3 linked regions of the Homo sapiens genome follow. The protein of the gene in region 3 interacts with the protein of the main gene of each other region in a pairwise test. Each region holds a gene or a part of one and is shown on either strand. Other genes may lie near its edges. The genes, in order: HUNK, ETS2 and ZBTB44.

Region 1 (3,651 bases), on a different chromosome or scaffold from region 3:
CAAAACAATTCCATGGAATAAAAATACAGAAAAATTCCCAGCCTGGCCAACATGGTGAAACCCCGTCTCTACTAAAAATACAACAAAGTTAGCCAGGCATTGTGGCAGGTGCCTGTAATCCCAGCTACTTGGGTGGCTGAGGCAGGAAAATCGCTTGAACCCACAAGGCGGAGGTTGCAGTGAGCCATGACTGCGCCATTGCACTCCAGCCTGGGCAACAAGAACAAAACTCCGTCTCAAAAAAATAAACAAATAAATAAAATTAAAATATAGACAAATTGTAAAACAGGCTGCAATTGCTCAGCCTTTCTCAGAGGCTCAGAGGGTGCCACAGCCCAGTGCCACCCACGGAGCACACAGTCAGCGATCACCAGCGTGGCCTGGCCCTTACCTGTGGACCACCCCGGCCCGGTGCAGGTGCTCTACGGCAGAGATGAGCTGTCGGATGTATCTGCGGGCTTCGGACTCCTCCAGCCGCTTCTTCTCATAGATCTTGTGCATCAGGTTGCCCCCAGGGCACAGCTCCATGACCAGGTAGTAGCTGTTTTCCGTTTCTAAAATATCAAGGAGCTGAGTGATATTGGGGTGGCGGATCATCTGCTGGATCTGACCCTCTCGCCGCAGGTTTTTGGTGACATAGGTGTCCTTTTTGGCTCTCTTCTTATCAATGACTTTTATGGCCACCTAAGGAGAAAACAAGAACATGCCTGTTATCAGACATTACAGACAATAGCGATGCCTTGGCTACTCACAGGAACCCAAGAAAAATGCTAGCTATGTCTCTGCAGAGGAGAAACACCTTACCTAAAACAGCATCAACAGAAAATATATATATACACATTTATATTTATGCATATACCACACAAACACACACACACACACACATATAGGTACAACATTAGGAAAAATCAAAAGGTCCAATTATTAAGGAAGACAATGGAATTTACCTAAGAAAACCTGAATGGCTGTCTGGAAGGCACAGTGCAGGATTAATGTCAAATTTATTTTTCTACAGGATGGGAAGATGAAATAACAATTTCTCTTCCAGCAAAGGGCTTGTCCCAGTCCCCCTCAGGACTCACCATCATCTCCCTCCAGGTCTGAGGACCCCCAGCCACTTCAGAAACAGCTAAATCTTCCCCCAATCTTAGTTCCAAGGCATGGTTGGGGGACACTGCCCAAAGATGCAGCACCCCTAGCCTTGCCCGCCCCCGCTCCGCCCTGCCCTGTGCACACCCTCAAGCCTCAGGGTCTACCTCCTTCCCTTGATGAATTGCCTCCTAGGGAAACTTGGCCCCCACTGTCAGGACCCAACCTTTGTTGTTACTCAGGATCACATTTCTACTACCCTCAGGAAGCTCCTCCTGGGCCATTGCCCCTACAATCAACTTGTCATAAGAGGTACGGTGGGAGGGAGGGAAGAACAGAAGGAAGGATGGAGGAACAGAGGGAAGGGAAGATTGTCTATTCCACCCAAATCCGCATCTGTCCCCAGTCCTCTTTCCTTTAGGGGAAGTCACCTCTCCATTGTATTCACCCTTTTCCTTCCCTTCCCTCCCTCCCTCCCTCCCTCCCTCGCTTCCTTCCTTCCTTCCTTCTTTCCTTCCTTCCTTCCTCCCTCCCTTCCTCCCTCCTTCCCTCTCTCCCTCCCCTTCCTCTTTCCTTCCTTCCTTTCTTTCTTCTTCTATCTCTCTCTTTTTCTCTTTCTTTCCTTCTTGACAGAGTCTCTCTGTTGCCCAGGCTGGAGTACATGGTGCAATCATGGCTCACTGAAGCCTCAAACTCCTGGGCTTAAGTGATCCTCCCACCTCAGCCTCCCAGGAGCTGGGACTATAAGCACACACCACCACGGCTGGCTAATTTTTTTCTTTTTGTAGAGACCGATCTCCCCATGTGGCCCAGGCTGGTCTTGAACTCCTGGCTTCCAGTGATTCTCCTTGTCAGCCTCCCAAAGCACCGGCGTCAAAGGCGTGAGTCACCACGCCGGCTGCCCTGTTCCTTCTTTTTTCTTCACTCCCCTCTCTAATGTGATCAGCCACTGACGTCAACACATGATGTCAATGTCTTCTTCCAGCTGTCTCGCCACCTGTCCTTCCTCTCTGTTCCCCTACACCACCCGCCTGGTTCATTCCAACCACTGCCCCAGTGCCCAGATGCCCTGTCATGAACTGAGACATGAGCATCCCAGGAACACCTTCATACACAGCTATGGAGCCTCCGGGTGCAGGATGAAGTCAGTGGACCTTCCATTTCTTGTTATTTCTCTTTTTTGTAATTACATTTTGTACCTGTTTCACAACGCACTCAATATGCATTATATGCAATATGCCATACACAGAGGTACAAGTACAGAAATAAATAATAAGTAAATAAATACAGATGAATACATGTTTTCAGTGAGGGGCTCAAATATTATTTTGTGGACATAGTTCATGATAAAGAAAAAAACAGAAGTCTGAGATCCAATGTACAGCATGGTGACCAGGCTTAACAATAATGTATTGCACACTTGAAAACTGCTAAGAGGCCGGGCGTGGTGGCTCGTGCCTGTAATCCCAACACTTTGGGAGGCCGAGGAGGGTGAATTACTTGAGGTCAGGAGTTCAAGACCAGCCCGGCCAACATGGTGAAACCCTGTCTCTACTAAAAACACAAAAATTAGATGGGCGTGGTGGTGGATGCCTGGAATCCCAGCTACTCGGGAGGCTTAGGCAGGAGAATCGCTTGAACCCAGGAGGTAGAAGTTGCAGTGAGCCAAGATTGTGCCATTGCACTCCAGACTGGGCAACAAGAACAAAACTCCGTCTCAAAAAAAAAGAAAGAAAACTGCTAAGAGGCTGGGCACGGTGGCTTGTGCCTGTAATCCCAGCACTTTGGGAGGCCAAGGCGGGTGGATCACTTGAGGTCAGGGGTTCGAGACCAGTCTGGCCAACATGGCGAAACCCTGTCTCTACTAAAAATATAAAAATTAGCTGGGTGTGGTGGTGGACGCCTGGAATCCCAGCTACTCAGGAGGCTGAGGCAGGAGAATCGCTTGAACCTGGGAGGTAGAGGTTGCAGTGAGCAGAGATTGTGCCATTGCACTCCAGCCTGGGCAACAAGAACAAAACTCCATCTCAAAAAAAAAGAAAGAAAATTGCTGAGAGATTTTTTAATGTTCTCAAGACACACACAAAACTGATAACCCTGTCAGGTAATGGACATGTCCATGAGCTTGACCATGGTAACCATTTCACAACATGCTCACTTATCATAACCTGCATACTATAAGCACACGCGGTTATCTGTCAGTTAAACCTCAATAAAGCTGAAGAAAACCTTAAAAAACAAAAAGAAAACAAAAAAGGGAAAAAGTCCAAACTAAAGGCAAACTTTAAATTAAACAAAATAGTGAACGAATCAATAAAAGTCTGGCCACCCCCAGGGTGAACTAAGGCATGGATGTCACCTCTTCTTGAGGCTCCTCCTGGCCTCTTGAATTCATTCTACACTCTGCCTCCAAATCAGTGGGTCTAGAACTCTGATTTCTTGCAGAAGCTCTTGAGGTCTCACTGCTGCCTATGGGAGCACCCAAGCATCTTCTCCATCAGCCCCACCACCACCCGGTCCCAACTCCTCCCAGCTCTCCCTCCTGGCATGTCTTGTCACTCC
Region 2 (3,651 bases), on a different chromosome or scaffold from region 3:
GATGGGCTTCCCACTCAGTCCACGAGCCTGGGGCCGGCTCAGGGTGGTCCCGGCGACCTCAGTCCTCCGTGTCGGGCTGGACGCCCAGGATGGCGTGCAGTTCCTCGGGCGTGAACCCCAGCAAGTTCTGGAGGTCGCACACGAAGCGGTACACGTAGCGCTTCCCCGACGTCTTGTGGATGATGTTCTTGTCGTAATAGTAGCGTAAGCCCCGGCTCAGCTTCTCGTAGTTCATCTTGGGCTTATTTTTCCTCTTTCCCCACCGGCGGGCCACCTTTGGTGAACATGGATGGAAAAGAGTTAAACTCAATTTGTCAATGAAGAAAAAGTGAATGACATTCCTCCCTGATTATGATTCTGAGGCATGTTCACTCTAGAGAGAACTTGACACCTACACAAGGTCCGCAGGAGGACCTTTTGAGTACCTCTGAGTACCTTTGAGTACCTATGGTAGGGGCACTGTGTCCCCAAGGGGCAGAACCACTGGGGAATGAGGTCCCTGCTCCCTGGCCCCAGCTCAGTGAAACCTCCTGGGAGCCAAGGGTTCAGAGCCAGGAGGGTCCTGAGACCAGGGAAAGGTGGTGTCACCCACCCTCCAGGCTGGATATTCCAACTACTGAAGTTAACAGGTGCCGAGTGGGATTCTGAGCTGTGTGATATACTCATTCCTCAATGCTTGTCTCCCAAGGGAACTGGAGGCGGGGTGGGAATGGTGACAGATTACGCTCCCCAGTGCCAGAGACCAAGGGCTTCTCTCTAACGCTTTTCTGGCGGGGTTGGTATCCCACCTGCCCTTGGCCTTCTCCTTTAGACAGGGCTCCTGGTTCTAACTCTGCAGGGCTGGGGTCAACACTGCTGGGCTCAGCTAAGGAGTGGACAGAAGGCTGGCTCGGGGCCACATGAGGCTTGTTCCCCCGATGGACAAGGGCAGCCTTCCTAAGGCATTTTCAGATGGTCAGCAGAGAACCTCAGTTTGCAGCTTGGGCCTCTTGATCAGACAACTGATCAAGACAGTGAAATCTGTGCAACGCCCTTGTATGAAGCATACCCAGAAAACACTGTACACGTTTATCAACAAAGCAATGACTCCACTTCCATTTTCCCAACAGCCAAGGATGCCTCACGTGGAAAGATTCTCAGCAGTACTGGTGAACCCTTTTTTGTGCCCAAAGAACTGAGTTTTTGAATGCAAGCAGGAAATCAGGTTTTCAAGCCCAGAGATTTCCCAGGGCTCTGGCCATACCTCATCGGGGTCGGCGAGCTTAAACTCCCATCCGTCTCCAGTCCAGCTGATGAATGACTGGCAGGATTTGTCTGATAGCAGCTCCAGGAGAAACTGCCACAGCTGAATAGGTCCACTTCCTGCGGGGAGAGGGAGGGAGACGGATCATACCCTTTCACAGATGTAAAATACAGCAAGTCTTTAACCATCCTAATTGTACATGCTGATTTAGGAATGCAGACCCAACTCTCTGAATGGGGTTCCGATGTTACACTCAGGGTGGCACTCAAGGTGTTGGTGACAGTACTAAGTGCTTTAACGGGATGGGGCGGGGCACCAAATGTGAGTTCCTGCTCCACACTGCCTACTCCTAGAAAATAAGGTCACTAGGCGAGACACTCTTCCCCTTGATTGCTAGGTTTGTTCTTTCTGGAAGAAAGTTTAGGGCCACCAACTCTTGGCATTAAAATTCCCCATCTGGTTTAATTGTTCCTTATGTAAAAACCTTCAAGGTTTTTTTCTAGAAACACCCAGTGGGGCAGAGATGGGGGTGGCTGAGGGGGTGTTTCATCACAGAATGAGGCGTGTCATACGTGGGATCCCATGCCACCTTCCTGCCAAATGACCATGTGTAAATTGCTTAATGTGAGCCCGGTTTACTCAATAGCCACGCGGGGTCACACCCGTTGCCTCACAGCCTCTGTCTGGTGAAGCATGCTTTGCCAAGAGCTTCTCGTCCACCTGTCCTCGATTGACATTTAGAACTACCACCTTGCAAAGCAGGTGTCAGTGTGGTTCTGTTCTAAAGAGGAGGGATAAGATGCGGCTCAGAGGCCAGGTGCCTTGTCCTGGATCACACGCCCATCACAGCAAACAGGAGAAGAGCCTAGATCTTCCGACCCTAAGCCCAACCTCTTTCTACCAAATAGCTCTTCCTCAGAAACGCAATGGCCGTTATCAATAAAGCTTTGCTGTAAAGCACGGGACAGGCATTCTAGAACCAGAGCTGTGTGAGCACCGATAGCTGTCTGCCTGTGAGCCAATTTCCCCATCTGTAAAATGGCCTCATACCACCCCCATGCCAGGCTGTCCTACAGACTGTATGCCTACTTAACTACAGAGTTGGCAGTCAATAAACAGAAACTTATGTTACTATTAAAATGAACCACACTAACGTTATGGCTGTTTATTCTTCTCAGGCCCTAAACTCCCAATAATGAAACCGATAATGGCTTTCACACACTCTTTCCGTGTATTTTAATACGTTTACGTGGCTGATTGTTCTTAGATGACAGAAAAAGAATGAATGCCTCAGTATCCTTATTTTAAACTTATCAGATTTTTTTAAGTTAGGTAATTTCAATCCACAGTGGCTCCATATGGTTAAAAAAACAAAAACAAAAACGCATTTAAGGATACACGAAGCAGTGAAAACAAAGCCCCAGTATTTTCGCTAAAGTACTGGAAATACCTGTTTCTAAAAACAGCTTTATATTTGTCCACTGCCTAGAATAGCTCTCACCCAAACCTCAAAAATAAGAGCAGATAGATTTTAGAAGCAAGAAAAGGTAAACAGTGCCCATATTATTTGAGACTGGCTCTGCTGCCCCTCCCTAAGCCAGTTTACATTCTTTGAGATTCTTGGAGTGGGTGAGTCAGGGCTGAAGACTGCACAGGCCATGTCCCCTGCTCCAACTATTCCTCAGAACGTCCCAGGTGGAGGGAGTGGCCTGTCAATTTTCACTCATTCCATGGAGCTCTGTGTACATGAAAATTCCTCCAAGTGTGGCTTTTGTCGAATTCAGAGATACAGCAAGCCACGCATAAAACATGGAGTGTAGAGCACTGGTGTACCTAGCTTAGAAACACCCTCGGTGAATGTGGTACTGTGGCTCGAAAGGAAGCAAGGGACAGGACCCAGGAGACTGGGCGGCCAGGCTCTCGGAGTTCCACACACACCTGTGAAGCCGGCCAGCACAGCTGCAGGTATAACTGGTTTGCCTTGCTCCACTGGGTCACTCCTCTCTTGGATGTAATCCTTGAAAGACATGGTTGGCTTATTGAGGCAGAGAGACTGGCTGCAGTCATCTTCGAAGCTCTCGAAGGAAGGAACCCGTTGCACATCCAGCAAGGACGACTGGCTGTTCCAGGACTGGAGGAGGGAGTCTGAGCTCTCGAAGCTGTCCGCACCGTTCTCAGGGGAGTCGTGGTCTTTGGGAGTCCCTGGCAAAGACAACCAAACACATACTTTGATTCCTCCAGGACACAGTTGGTCTTGGGCACGACCATAGCATCACCAACCACTACCAGTGCAATCATGCACCTGCTGGTGTAGAACCACTCAGACTTCTCAAAATGCTCTCTACTCAGGTGCTTATTCCTTAGGGTAACTATACTACACAAATCCTATCTTCCATCAACAGTAGAAT
Region 3 (3,651 bases):
TTAAAGAATTTTATACCAAGCTGCAAAGGAGGAAGTCAAACTGTTGCTGTTTGCTGATGATACAAACTTATACCTAGAAAACCCTCAAGATTCATTTGAAAAGCTCCTAGATCTGATAAATGAATTCAGTGAAGTTTCAGGATACAAAATTAATGTACACAAATCAGTAGCACTGCTATACACCAATGATGACCAAGCCGAGAATCAAATCAAGAACGCAATCCCTTTTACAACAGCTGCCAAAGAAAAATTAAAATACTTAGGAATATACCTAACCAAGGAGGTGAAAGATCTCTACAAGGAAGACTACAAAACACTGTTCAAACAAATCATCGATGACACAAACAAATGGAAACACATCCCATGCTCATGGATGGGTAGAATCAATATGGTGACAATGACCTTACTGCCAAATGCAATCTACAGATTTAATGCAATTCACATCAAAATACCATCATCATTCTATAGAACTAGAAAACACAATTCTAAAATTCATATGGAACCAAAAAAGAGCCCACATAGTCAAAGCAAGACTAAGCAAAAATAACAAATCTGGAGGAACCACATTACCTGACTTCAAACTACACTACAAGGCTATAGTCACCAAAACAGCATGGTACTGGTATAAAAACAGGCATGTAGACCGATGGAACAGAATAGAGAACCCCAAAATAAAGCCAAATACTTACAGCCAACTGGTCTTTGACAAAGCAAACAAAAACATAAAGTGGAGAAAGGACACCCTATTCAACAAACAGTGCTGGGATAATTGGCAAGCCACATGTAGAAGAATGAAACTGGATCTTTATCTTTCATCTTACACAAAAATCAACACAAGGTGGATCAAAGACTTAAATCTTAAGGCCTGAAACCATAAAAATTCTGGAAGATAACATCAGAAAAACTCTTCTAGACATTAGCTTAGGCAAAGAATTCATGACCAAAAAACCAAAAGCGAATGCAACAAAAATAAATGGGACCTAATTAAACTAAAAAGCTTCTACATAGCAAAAGAAATAATCAGCAGAGTAAAGAGACAACCCAAAGTGGTAGAAAATTTTTGCAAAGTATGCATCCAACAAAGGACTAATATCCAGAATCTACAAGGAATACAAACAAACCAGCAAAAACAAACGAACAAACAAAAACCACCAATCCTGTCAAAAAATGGGTTAAAAAAAACATAGACAATTCTCAAATGATATAAAAACAGCCAACAAACACATGAAAAAATGTTTAACATCCCTAATTATCAGGGAAATGCAAATTAAAACCACAATTAGATACTACCTTACTCCTGTAAGAATGGCTATAATTTAAAAATTAAAAATAATAAATATTGGCATGACTGTGGTGAAAAGGGAACACTTTTACACTGCTGGTGGAAATGTAAACTAGTACAACCACTATGAAAAACAGTATGGAGATTCCTTTAAGAACTAAAAGTAGGCTGGGCACGATGGCTCACACTTGTAATCCCAGCACTTTGGGAAGCTGAGGTGGGCGGATCACCTGAGGTCGGGAGTTCGAGACCAGCCTGACCAACATGGAGAAAACCCACCTCTCCTAAGAATACAAAATTAGCTGGGCGTGGTGGTGCATGCCTGTAATCCCAGCTACTTGGGAGGCTGAGGCAGGAGAATGGCTTGAACCCAGGAGGCAGAGGTTGCAGTGAGCCGAGATTGCGCCACTGCACTCCAACCTGGGCAACAAGAGCTAAACTCCACTCAAAAAAAAAAAAGAACTAAAAGTAGAACTACCATTTGATCCAGCAATCCCACTACTGGGTATCTACCCAAAAGAAAAGAAGTCATTATGTGAAAAAGACACATGTACACACACTTACAGCAGCACAATTCACAATTGCAAAAATATAGAACCAACCTAAACGCCCATCAAACAACGAGCAGATAAAGAAAACGTGGTATATTTACACCATGAAAACTGAATGAAATACTGGCTTTTGCAGCAACTTGGATGGAGTTGTAAGCCATTATTCTAAGTGAAGTAACTCAGGAATGGAAAACCAAATATCGTATGTTCTCACTTATAAGTGGGAGCTAAGCTACAAGGACGCAAAAGCATATGAAGGATATAACGGACTTTGGGGACTTGGAGGGAAGGGTGCAAGTGGGGTGAGGGATAAAAGACTACACATTGGGTACAGCGTACACTGCTCAGGTGACGGGTGCACCAAAATGTCAGAAATCACCACTAAAGAACTTATCCATATAGCCAAAAACCACCTGCACCCCCAAAACTATCAACATTCAAAAAAAAAAAAAATCAAAGAACAAGCAAAAAAAAAAAAAATTATAGTTGAATACCTGAATAGCCATACCTAAAGCCCACCATTAACATTCTACTGTAGCCCGGGTGTGGTGGCTAACGCTTGTAATCCCAGCACTTTGGGAGGCCAAGGTGGGCAGATCACAAGGTAAGGAGACCAAGACCATCCTGGCTAACACGGTGAAACCCCGTCTCTACTAAAAATACAAAAAAATTAGCCAGGCATGGTGGCAGGCACCTGTAGTCCCAGCTGCTTGGGAGGCTGAGGCAGGAGAATGGCGTGAACCCAGGGGATGAAGCTTGCAGTGAGCTGAGATCGTGCCACTGCACTCCAGCCTGGGCAACACAGCAAGACTCTGTCTCAAAAAAAAAAAAAAAAGTCTACTGTTATTGTTTTATCACATACCTATCCATCCATCAATCCATCTTGATTTTTACTCTACTTTTAAAATGCCTTTTAAAGTAGTATCTAAATGCAGTTTCTGAAGCAAGGGGTCAGAAACTCCCGCACCTATGAGAAAGGAAAATGATATACAATCATGCGTGGCATGTGTCCCTCAATGATAGACCACAAATACCACAACCGTCCCATATTATAATACCATATTATTTTTGAGACAAGAGTCTCATTCTGTCGCTCAGGCTGGAGGGCAGTGGTGCAATCTGGGCTCACTGCTGGAGGAATCACATTACCTGACTTCAAACTATACTACAAGGCTATAGTTACCAAAACAGCATGGTACTGGTGTAACCTTCCAGGTTCAAGCAATTCTCCTGTCTCAGCCTCCCAAGTAGCTGTGACTACAGGTGCATGCCACCACACTTGGCTAATTTTTGTATTTTTAGTAGAGACAGGGTTTCACTATATTGGTCAGGCTGGTCTCGAGCTCCTGACCTTAGGTGAGCCACCCGCCTCCGCCTCCCAAAGTACTGGGATTACAGGCATGAGCCACCGTGCGCAACCCTGTAATACCATATTTTTACTGCACCTTTTCTAGGTTTAGATATGCTTAGATATACATATACTTTCCACTGCATTACAAAAGCCTACAGCATTCAGTACAGTAACATGCTGTACAGATACGTGGCCTAGGAGCAACAGGCTATACCATATAACCTAGATGTAGAGTAGGCCATACCATCAAGTTTTGTCTAAGTACACTTTATGATGTTCATACAATGACACAATCGCCTAACGACGCATTTCTCAGAACATATCCCCGTTGCAATCTCTGAGGTTGTTACAGCATCAGTCATGTAGTTCCGTATTCATGGTGACTGAAAATTTATTCAATTTTTATGACTTGTTACATTTAGTTGTGAGGTGGAGCAAAGCAGCTAAGTGCTAACTCTAAACAGCCT

The links.
Region 1: the proteins of ZBTB44 (region 3) and HUNK interact in a two-hybrid assay, tested with the Homo sapiens proteins (one large-scale study listed by BioGRID and IntAct).
Region 2: the proteins of ZBTB44 (region 3) and ETS2 interact in a two-hybrid assay, tested with the Homo sapiens proteins (one large-scale study listed by BioGRID and IntAct).

Annotation. Positions count from the first base shown.
Region 1 is NC_000021.9:31,921,501-31,925,151, reverse strand, and holds part of HUNK (hormonally up-regulated neu tumor-associated kinase), read right to left. Parts: intron 685-3,651; coding exon 392-684; intron 1-391.
Region 2 is NC_000021.9:38,819,297-38,822,947, reverse strand, and holds part of ETS2 (protein C-ets-2), read right to left. Parts: intron 3,446-3,651; coding exon 3,182-3,445; intron 1,363-3,181; coding exon 1,244-1,362; intron 275-1,243; coding exon 59-274; 3' UTR 1-58. UniProt on the Homo sapiens protein: Transcription factor activating transcription. Binds specifically the DNA GGAA/T core motif (Ets-binding site or EBS) in gene promoters and stimulates transcription.
Region 3 is NC_000011.10:130,304,773-130,308,423, forward strand, and holds part of ZBTB44 (zinc finger and BTB domain-containing protein 44), read right to left. Parts: intron 1-3,651. UniProt on the Homo sapiens protein: May be involved in transcriptional regulation.